Regions from separate parts of the Homo sapiens genome. Here region 1 is linked to region 2. Evidence: fine-mapped expression QTL. A gene starts in region 2. The other region holds a variant in brackets. All regions are shown on one strand. Distances are from middle to middle.

The links. PIP is the estimated chance that this variant, and not a neighbour inherited with it, causes the effect. A credible set is the group of variants that fine-mapping cannot tell apart.
Region 1: its variant is the best candidate, but not a certain one, in a credible set for the expression of ACP1 in tibial artery (GTEx, PIP 0.59).

Annotation. Positions count from the first base shown.
Region 1 is chr2:386,562-391,797 of GRCh38, reverse strand. LOC105373351 (a long non-coding RNA gene) reads right to left here. Exons shown (of 3, transcript XR_922703.3): 3 at 4,521-4,707. Among named protein-coding and RNA genes, the nearest start is that of LINC01865, 73 kb to the right of the region's middle. The variant TACAC/C (reference allele first, on the strand shown) is at 2,062.
Region 2 is chr2:262,117-267,352 of GRCh38, reverse strand. ACP1 (acid phosphatase 1) reads right to left here and starts at 2,406. Exons shown (of 6, transcript NM_004300.4): 1 at 2,346-2,406. The coding sequence starts at 2,388. SH3YL1 (SH3 and SYLF domain containing 1) reads left to right here and starts at 3,321. Exons shown (of 10, transcript NM_015677.4): 1 at 3,321-3,369. The coding sequence starts at 3,369. RefSeq lists an enhancer at 2,296-2,345 and silencers at 2,696-2,775, 2,846-3,425.

The DNA of each region.
Region 1 (5,236 bases), 120 kb before region 2:
GGGCCTTCCCTCTGCCGCACATCATCGAGAACACCAGGAACAAGCCCAGAATGTTAGACAGCATACAGCGCAGCTGGAACCATCTCTCCACCCACATCACCGAGAACCCAGGATGTTAGACGGCACACAGTGCAGCTGGAACCATCTCTCCACCCACATCACCGAGAACACCAGGAACAAGCCCAGAATGTTAGACGGCACACAGCGCAGCTGGAACCATCTCTCCACCCACATCACCGAGAACACCAGGAACAAGCCCAGAATGTTAGACGGCACACAGTGCAGCTGGAACCATCTCTCCACCCATATCACTGAGAACACCAGGAACAAGCCCAGAATGTTAGACGGTACACAGTGCAGCTGGAACCATCTCTCCATCCACATCACCGAGAACGCCAGGAACAAGCCCAGAATGTTAGACGGCACACAGTGCAGCTGGAACCATCTCTCCACCCACATCACTGAGAACACCAGGAACAAGCCCAGGATGTTAGACGGCACACCGTGCAGCTGGAACCATCTCTCCACCCACATCACTGAGAACCCAAAATGTTAGACAGCACACAGCACAGCTGGAATTATCTCTACATCTCAGGAACACCTCGGGGGTGGCCGTCGCTTACTGGAGCATTCACCTGCAAGACTCCACAGGGCCACTGAGGACTCGACTCAGTTCCACTGCTGATGAGAGTGGCGTTCTTCCGTCTGAAATCAGGCATCCATCCCTGCCCCACGACGACAAGCACGGAAGTCCTGGCAGCCCTGGCACCGGCTCTCGCCTGAAACCCTCACAGAGCCGGCTCTGGAATGCTGCTCTGTACTGCACCCTCCAGTTAATCCCATTCCCAACACATGTCCAGGAAAGATGATAAACAAAGTGAATATCCATGCAAAAGAGATCACTTAAAGGTCTATTTAAATTGTGTGCTCTTCTCTTTTATTTTCCTTCATATGTGATCTTTCCCCTAGTCATACAGAAATAGCCATTTGCTCAGGGAGATGTGATTGTCAGGGTGGAAATGCAAATTAAAGGAAGAGGCATCACTGCCGCCCTGACTGACGGAACGAGATAACTGAGTTCCCACCAAAACACGTGTAAAATCATGGCTGTAAGGAGAAAAGTAAGTGGATAAATAAGTACTTGTATGAACTCACACACACACATACACACGCATGTACATATACACATACATATGTACTATCTAAATCCCTTGAACACCCACACACACATACACACACGTGTACATATACATACGTACTGTCTAAATCCCTTAAACACACACACACAAGCACATGTACATATACATATGTACTGTCTAAATCCCTTAAACATGCACACACACACGCACGTGTACATATAGGTATGTACTGTCTAAATCCCTTAAACATGCACACACACGTGTACATATACGTATGTACTGTCTAAATCCCTTAAACATGCACACACACATACACACATGTGTACATATACGTATGTACTGTCTAAATCCCTTAAACACGCACACACACATACGCACATGTGTACATATACGTATATACTGTCTAAATCCCTTAAACACGCACACACACATACGCATGTGTGCATATACATATGTACTGTCTAAATCCCTTAAACACGCACACACATACACACATGTGTACATATACGTATGTACTGTTTAAATCCCTTACACACACATACGCATGTGTACATATACGTATGTACTGTCTAAATCCCTTAAACACGCACACACACATACGCACATGTGTACATATACGTATGTACTGTCTAAATCCTTAAACACGCACACACACATACGCACATGTGTACATATACGTATGTACTGTCTAAATCCCTTAAACACACACACGTGTACATATACATATGTACTGTCTAAAGCCCTTACACACACACACGTACATGTACATATATGTATGTACTAAATCCCTTAAACACGCACACACATATGCACGTGCACATATACGTATGTATTGTCTAAATCCCTTAAACACGCACACACACATATGCACATGTGTACATATACGTATGTAGTCTAAATCCCTTAAACACGCACACACACA[TACAC/C]ACACGTGTACATATACGTATGTACTGTCTAAATCCCTTACACACACATATGCATGTGTACATATACGTATGTACTGTCTAAATCCCTTAAACACGCACACACACATACGCACATGTGTACATATACGTATGTACTGTCTAAATCCCTTAAACACGCACACACACACGCACATGTGTACATATACGTATGTACTGTCTAAATCCCTTAAACACGCACACACACGTACACACATGTGTACATATGCGTATGTACTGTCTAAATCCCTTAAACACGCACACACACATACGCACGTGTACATATACGTATGTACTGTCTAAATCCCCTAAACGCGCACACACATACGCACATGTGTACATATACGTATGTACTGTCTAAATCCCTTAAACACGCACACACACATACACACGTGTACATATACGTATGTACTGTGTAAATCCCCTAAACACGCACACACACATACGCATGTGTACATATACGTATGTACTGTCTAAATCCCTTAAACGCGCGCACACACATACGCACGTGTACATATACGTATGTACTGTCTAAATCCCCTAAACGCGCACACACATACGCACGTGTACATATACGTATGTACTGTCTAAATCCCTTAAACATGCACACACACATACGCACGTGTACATATATGTATGTACTGTGTAAATCCCCTAAACACGCACACACACATACGCATGTGTACATATACGTATGTACTGTCTAAATCCCTTAAACGCGCACACACATATGCACGTGTACATATACGTATGTACTGTCTAAATCCCTTAAACACGCGCACACACATATGCACGTGTACATACACGTATGTACTGTGTAAATCCCTTAAACACGCACACACACATACGCACGTGTACATATACGTATGTACTGTCTAAATCCCCTAAACACGCACACACACATACGCACGTGTACATATACGTATGTACTGTCTAAATCCCTTACACACACATACGCACGTGTACATATACGTATGTACTGTCTAAATCCCTTACACACACATACGCACGTGTACATATACGTATGTACTGTCTAAATCCCTTAAACACACACACACACATACGCACGTGTACATATATGTATGTACTGTCTAAATCCCTTAAACTTCTCTTGACATACCAAGAGCCAGGCCTGGAGGAGTTTTCACAAAGTCCTGGGTGGAAAACTGGGGATGTGATCAAGGAAGTGTCCTGCCCAGAAAGTCCCTGATGGAGAAAGATGGAGATGGACGTCTGGAGTGAAAGAAGGTGGGACAAGGAGCTCACAAGCCGGGTCTTTTCTTTCCTGATGCTAAGGACGGAATCTAAAGGCAGAGCATTCAGAGCAGGGCCTCGGAGCGGCTGCGGGTGCCTTGTGGGTGCCTGTCGGCCAAGCCACAGCCCCGGCTCAGACCTGCAGCCGCCTCTGAGTCAGCATTCCTAAGTAAGTCAGGGGGTTCCAGTGGAGACCACGTGCAGTGGCTGAGGAGGCCGTCTGGGGTGTCGAGGCTTTGCTCCAGAGGGTCCCCAGCCAGAGGCAGTGGCAGGAGCACAGTGTGCTCAGCCCCCAATGGTGCCCACCTGCCAGGAGCCACCAGATTTCAGAGACCAGATCCCGGCCTCCACGGCCAGCCCAGACCCCGGCCTCCACGGCCAGCCACAGACCATCCCAGGACCCCCTCTCGCCCGCAGCAGGGAAGAAGGAGCTGCAAGAGGTGGAGTATTCGCCCCTGGAAGCTGAGTCCGCCTGAAACTCAAAGAACCTGAAATCCTCGTAGTAGCTTCTGTCTCCTCCAGCTGCAGCCAGTGTGTGAGGAGGAGTCAAGCACAGAAAAGCAAAGAATACATGAGGAAGCCGACCATAAAATTATAAAAACTTGGATTCTTCTTCCTCTCAATGAAGGCTTAACACCTATGTGACAATAGGGAGTTATGCTTATAATCGAGTTATAAACATGAAAAGCAGATAGGTAGTCGCCTGTATGTTATAGAGATGACTATACAGATATGTAAGTGTAGAGAAGAAATTTAAAAATTACACTGAAATATTCGCGACGGTTGAATTATGATGTTTGTATTGTTCAAGGTGATTTCATCTTTTTTTCTATTTTGTATAGTTTTTATAATATGAAAATAACATTTCTTTGAGTCTGCATTTTCTCCTGAAAATCAGTTTCATATACATAAAGTTAATTTTGCTTTCCTCCCAGAAGTTGTCTTGCTATTTAGACTTATGATCAGCTATTTCCTCCATCTCAGACAGGGACATTCACAGAAAAATATTAAGAAATTTGACTGATTACCTTGGTGTGCTGGACAAGTCAGAAAAACCCTTTGGCTATAATAAAATACTTTGTTTTATTCAGTTGTAGGTGATAGTTGGTCTAGAATTTTTTCTTTTTAAACATATTTTGAATTTTACTGAAAACTCCTAGGAATACACAGTTAATGTTGAGTAGGGGAGCTACACAAGGATGTAAAATTTAACCAAATCATCTGATTGTGAATTCAAAAATTAAAAACTTACCATGGGTCCCATGAGGAGCCAATTCCACTCCATAGTCTGAATTTTCTAAATAGGAAACTGACAAGTCGGGTAAAGTGATTGCAGTTGTCCTGATCTTGTTGATATTAGTTTCAAAAAATCACTGTTTGGAGAAAGTGAAGGGGGGAAAAGCTGGAGTGGATGCAGAGAGCGGTGAGGGGGGCAGAAGCCCAGGACAGAGAAGGGAGCAGGGCAGAGGCGACAGGGGAGAGGGGAGAGGGAGAAGGCAGAGGGGAGAGGACAGAAGGGAGAGCGCAGAGGGCAGAGGGGAGAGGGCAGAGAGCAGAGGGCAGAGGGCAGAGGGGAGAGGGCAGAGGGGAGAGGGCAGAGGGCAGAGGGCAGAGGGGAGAGGGCAGAGGGCAGAGGGGAGAGGGGAGAGGGGAGCGGGCAGAGGGGAGAGGGGAGAGGGGAGCGGGCAGACGGGAGCGGGCAGAGGGCAGAACCTGGCTCCTGCTCTCAGGTAAGTGGTGAGCAGTGGGGCGCCTGCAGGGAGACCCCTCTTGCTGATTTGCAGGATGGAGTGAAGGCCACTCAGAGCCACCCCAGGACAGAGGACAGGAGTCTGAACCGCCCCCCATGGAAGGGGAGCCAGGGAATGGGGAGGAGTTGGGCACAGCATGGGGGACCTGGGG
Region 2 (5,236 bases):
ATTAATACTTGCTGGTGACTGAGAGAACGTGAGCTCCAGAGAGGCTGGGATTTTTGTCTGTTGTGTTCACCACACCACTTAGAGGAATGCATGCCATATAGTAGATGCTCAACAACAACAAAAAATCACTGAATTGTATTGAAATACAATAGTCCCCTCTTTTCCAAGGTTTTGCTTTCCATGGTTACCCCATGGTCAGCTTCAGTTGGAAAATATTAAATGAAGAATTCCACAAATAATTCCTAAGTTTTAAATTGTGCACTGTTCTGAGTAGCAGGATAAATTCTCATGCCATCCCATTCCGTCCTGCCCCAGAAGTGAAACACGTCTTTGTCCAGCATATCCATGCTGTCTATCCACCTATTGCCCTCTAGCTTATCAGATCCATTGTGATGCTATCACAGTGCCTGAGTTCGAGTCACCCTTAGTTTACTAATAATGGCCCGAAATCATAAGAGTAGTGAAGCTAGCAATTCAGATACGGCAAAGAGAAGCCATAAGCACTACCCTTAAGTAAAAAGGTGAAAGTTTTTGACTTCTTATGGAAAGAAAAAAAAAACTTATACCGAGGTTACTAAGATCTACAGTACGAACAAATCTTCTATCCATGAAAATGTAAACAAGGAAAAAGAAATTCCTGATCGTCTGCTGTCTTGCCTCAAACTGCAAAAGTTGCGACCACAGTTTTAAATGCTTAGTTAAGGTGGCAACGGTATTACATTTGTGGGTGTAAGAAACGAGCAGACACATGTTCCAATTGACAGCAATTGGGTTTGGTACTACCCACAGTTTCGGGATCCACTGGGGAGTCTTGGAATGTATCCCCTACAGCTAAAGTGGGACTACTGTATATGCAAGGATACACTTCCCCATTAACAGCAACCATGATGCATTATGCCAGCATAATCGACAATACCAACCAAAACTATACAAGGGAATGGAATATTATTTAGTAACCATCCTTAACCAAACTACTGTTTAATAAACTTATTGATTTCATCATTCAGCCTTCAATGAGTCTTAAAAATCAAATGATGCCCACTACCAATGTGAAACAAGGTAAGCCTTCTAATTCGTCTTTCACAGAAGTTAACTTCTACAAAACCTAGTCAGCGTTTATCATATATTGTCCTAAAGCTGAAAACAAAATGAAAAATAAGCCACAGTTATTGCCATCGACAAAATTAAACTCAGCTGGGATTTCAACAGACTATCAAATAATTATAGTAAAATTTGTGTAATAAAAGATGTCGATAAGGAATCACACCTTTTCTGTATTACATCTTTTACTATATTACACAAATTATAGTAAAATTTGTGTAATAAAAGATGTCGATAAGGAAGCAACTCATGATCTGGGAAAGCAAAGGAGGAAATATTTAGGTTTGACTTTATAAAATAAAAAGGCTTTCCAGGCAAAATGCATAATGGGCACCCAGCGATGAAGGCTCAGTAAGCATGTGAAGTGCTACCGAACAACGAAAGGTTCTGGAAGGCAGTGTCCCGAGGGTGTGAGCAGGAAAAGGTACAGGAGATAAAGTGAGGAGTCTGTAAAAATAAACAGAAACTGCAGGAAATGCAAACTCACAGAAGGTTTTAAGTAACCGGACTACTGACAATTTAGGCCTTCCTCTCAGGGTGGAGGCACCGAGGAATATAACCTTGTAGTGCTACACCAAAGGAAGATCCCTGAAGACCAAACGGAAAATAAATTATGTTTGAAGTAAGGCAAGCTAAGTGTTGAAATTCTAGGAGTGAAAATAATTTAAGCTGGAAAGTTCCTGAAAAGCCATTAATAAAATACACTTTCATTTTTCATGGGCCAAAGTTATATAGGGACCTCCAGGTCTCCTTTGCTTGGCTTTTACAATCAAGAAACCCGAAACCGTAAAACTTCATCTCCCTTTAACTCAGATCCCTATCTAAGCATGGGCTAAGGAAACTAGCAAACAAAACAATGTTGTCATAGGACTCAGGAGGCCCCTAAGAGACCACATCAGTCCGACAACCTCCAGGCCTACCTGGGCCCATTGGAGGGGAACGAGAGGGATTCTAGTAGTCGCAAAGAAAGTACCTTGGCTTGTAGGGGCTGTGGCTGCAGATGCCAAGAGCCCCGGATATATGGCAGGCGCGAGGGGACCCAGGTTTAGCGGGCAGGCTGGGCGGGTGCACGGGGCGGATGGGGAACAGGGGCGCTGCGGCACACTCCTAGAACACCCTAGGCCTCCCAGTCCCTGGCCTCCTCCCCCTCATGGTTCCTAGGCCGGCGGCACAACCTACAGCGCACAAGCCCGATCCAACTCTCCAGAGGACGTCAGAACATGAGTAAGTCGGCGCCCTCTTACCCAGACACACAAACAGCACGGACTTGGTAGCCTGTTCCGCCATCTTCCCGCGCGCAGAGGCGCCGAGACACCGCGGCGTTCCGCACGCCGACGCGGCGCAGGCGCACTGCCACCCTCTTGCCCCGCGCGCCTGCGCAGTCCCGCACCAACGCCAACAGGGCAGCGCGTGTGAGAGCCACGCCTGCGCAATCGGCTCCAGTGCGCCTGCGGAGGCGGTCCTATGACGGTAGTAGGACGGGCGGGGAGGGTCCGCGGGTCACCTGCAGGGACTGGGCCGCCGTTCACCTGCAGGGGCGGGGCTGCAGGTTGTCCGGAGGAGGAGGAGCTGCGGGGGTGGGGTCACCTGGAGGGAGTAGGGCCGCGGAAGGCGAGGGGGTGTGTGTGTGTGGTGGCGGGGGTTGGCGGGGGGGAGTCACCTGGAGGGGGCGGGGCTGCGGGTCGCTTGGAGGGGAAGGAGCCGCGGGAGGTAAAGGTTACCTATAGGGGACGGGGCCGCAGGAGAGGGGTACCTGGAGGAGGAAGGGCCGCGGGTCACCTGCAGGGCGGGCTCAGGCCTCGCGGCTCCGCGGGCCGCCCACCTGGGTTGGGGCACAGCGCGAGTCTCGCGCACGTGGCGGGCTGTGGTGCCTGTCGTTCGAGTTCGCATAGAGGGGCTGGGCGGGTCACGCGGGGAACCTGCCTTGAGCCCCGCGGGGTCCACGCCGGACCAGGGCGGCCTTGGGCCTGGGCGCTCCCTGAGACCCCCACCCCCAACACCGTGCTTGGAGCCGCCGCGGGGCTCTGGGCTTTTCGATCTTGAGGACGGGGCGGTTCCGAAGTCCCTGAGGGCGAAGGCCTGAGCGCGGCCCGGCGGGCGCGTGGTTTTTGTCCCGCGAAACGTACACGGCGGGTGTTTTGCGCCGCCTCCTTCGTCACCTGCCGCAGGTACGCCCTCGCTGGGGCCTCCTTGTCCGCGGGGCGGGGCAGCGCGCCTTCCTCTTCCTGGGCAGCCTCGGGACGGGGCGCCGCGGCCGGGCGGGCAGCAGTGAGTACCCGGGGACCCACCTGTCCGGCAGCACCCTCCCCTCTCAAGAGCTGGGCGGTGGTGGGAGGAGGAGGACGGGAAAACCGGCGATGCCTCTGGGGTTTCTAGGTCGCGCGTCTGTTAACCGCAAACCGCCCAAAGTTAAGATAGAGCAGCTTCCAGGACTTTCTTGACCACAGCGATTTTGATTGAAGTTTAGCCACCGTCTTTTCCATTTTTAGAAAAGCTATTCCGAAGTTTGGAATGATGACGATGGTCGTGTTATTTTTAACTTCCTGATATTTGAACGGCGAGGTGTCAGCGACCATCCTTCCGTTCCACAGAAGCGTCTCTGAAGTTTGGGTCGAATGCGCGCGCTTGGAATGTGCGTGGAACCCGCGGCAGGCGCGGGGAGGAGGCCTTGGCTAGGGCGCCGGCGAGGTTCGAGTTTGCCAGCCCCCCAACCTGGAAGAGAAGGGCCAGCCCCTCACACCCGGAAGGGAAGGGCCGGTCCCCCCAACACCTGGCGCCGGGGTCGCGGGGCCACAGGGCGAGCGCGGGGTCGCGGCGAGCACGGGTCCTCTCTGATCGCTGGGCCTTGGCGCTGGCTGCTGAGTTTTTCCTTCTTTAAGGAAGTGTGGAACTGGTCTCAATCGGTTGACCACCTTAAGGAAATAGGATTTACACTGTGGACAGAGATGTGTCCTTTACACTTCATTTGAACCAATATGCCCATGCTCCTGTGGAGGCTGAGTTGGAAAGTGACACGAAGCTGCCCCCCCGCAAGAGAGCAGGTGCTCGGTTTCTCTTCTGCTTACAGGAGATGCATGTCCTGATTTCTTGTTCTCCTAGGTGTTTTTATTGAGATGTAGGGAATATCTGAATTCATAACGACTTAGAAAATCTGTACACACAGTTGAGAGAACAGGTCTCGAGGCTAAGGTGCTGTTTACTCCCGTGGGCTGGCCTGTTATTAAAATACTTGTGCAGCGACTGATGTTTACAAATTACTATGTTGGAGGTTAAAATGATCAAAGTGATAACCTCCATCCTGTCTATCATGTTTGAGGAGAATTGGTTATTTGGTTCACTAATGTTCTGTTTAAAGAAAATTTCTGTAAAACTAGTAAATGTTACCCCTCATCTTTTGTAAGTTAAAAAAAAGTTTAAAATAATGTTTGCTCATCAAAAGTGATTTGATACTTTTGTTCTGTTTAGGAAAACTTTATTCTCAAGAGATTTCTCATTCCGCAGAAATAAGGATCTGGCATGTCAACACAAACATAGGAAGTTGAGGCAGTCAAAGGGAAATAACTGCTACCCTGACTCTGCTGAGAGCCTCACAAGTCCCTGTGCACGCCAGCTTGTTTGCCAGTGAGTGGCGTCATGATAAGACAAAATTCTCTGCTCTGAGACCTAAGCACATGAAGTTTTTAAAAAAATTTTCTCTGAGAAGATCCCATTTTTTACTCTAAAAGATCAGACCAGTGTGGCATGTGTGGAACTGCTCTGTACCAAGATCACACTCTTCAGTTGGAGAAGAGGAAGGGCAGGAATAAATAAAGGGCTTTCCTGTCTCCCGAGGGAGCAGAGAAAGCTTTCGCTGTCCTCTTCCTTCCCCAGCCACAGCCTGGGGTTGGGGGACTGGAAACAAGCTCAGGCTAGCACTTGATGTTCAGACGGTAGTCTGAAAGTTTGACTAGGGAGTTAATGATCTGACCAGAGAGACAGGTTTTTATTTTGAGAACTGACAAGCTTTGTGTCCTTAAAACAAAGGAAGTAGTTAAACCAAGGCCCCAGAAAGGTAAGAATTGACTTAAGAAACAAAGGCCATAGTTGTCAAGCAGTGGAGTTCAAAATGCAGTTTTGTTAATAAAAGTAGCTTAAA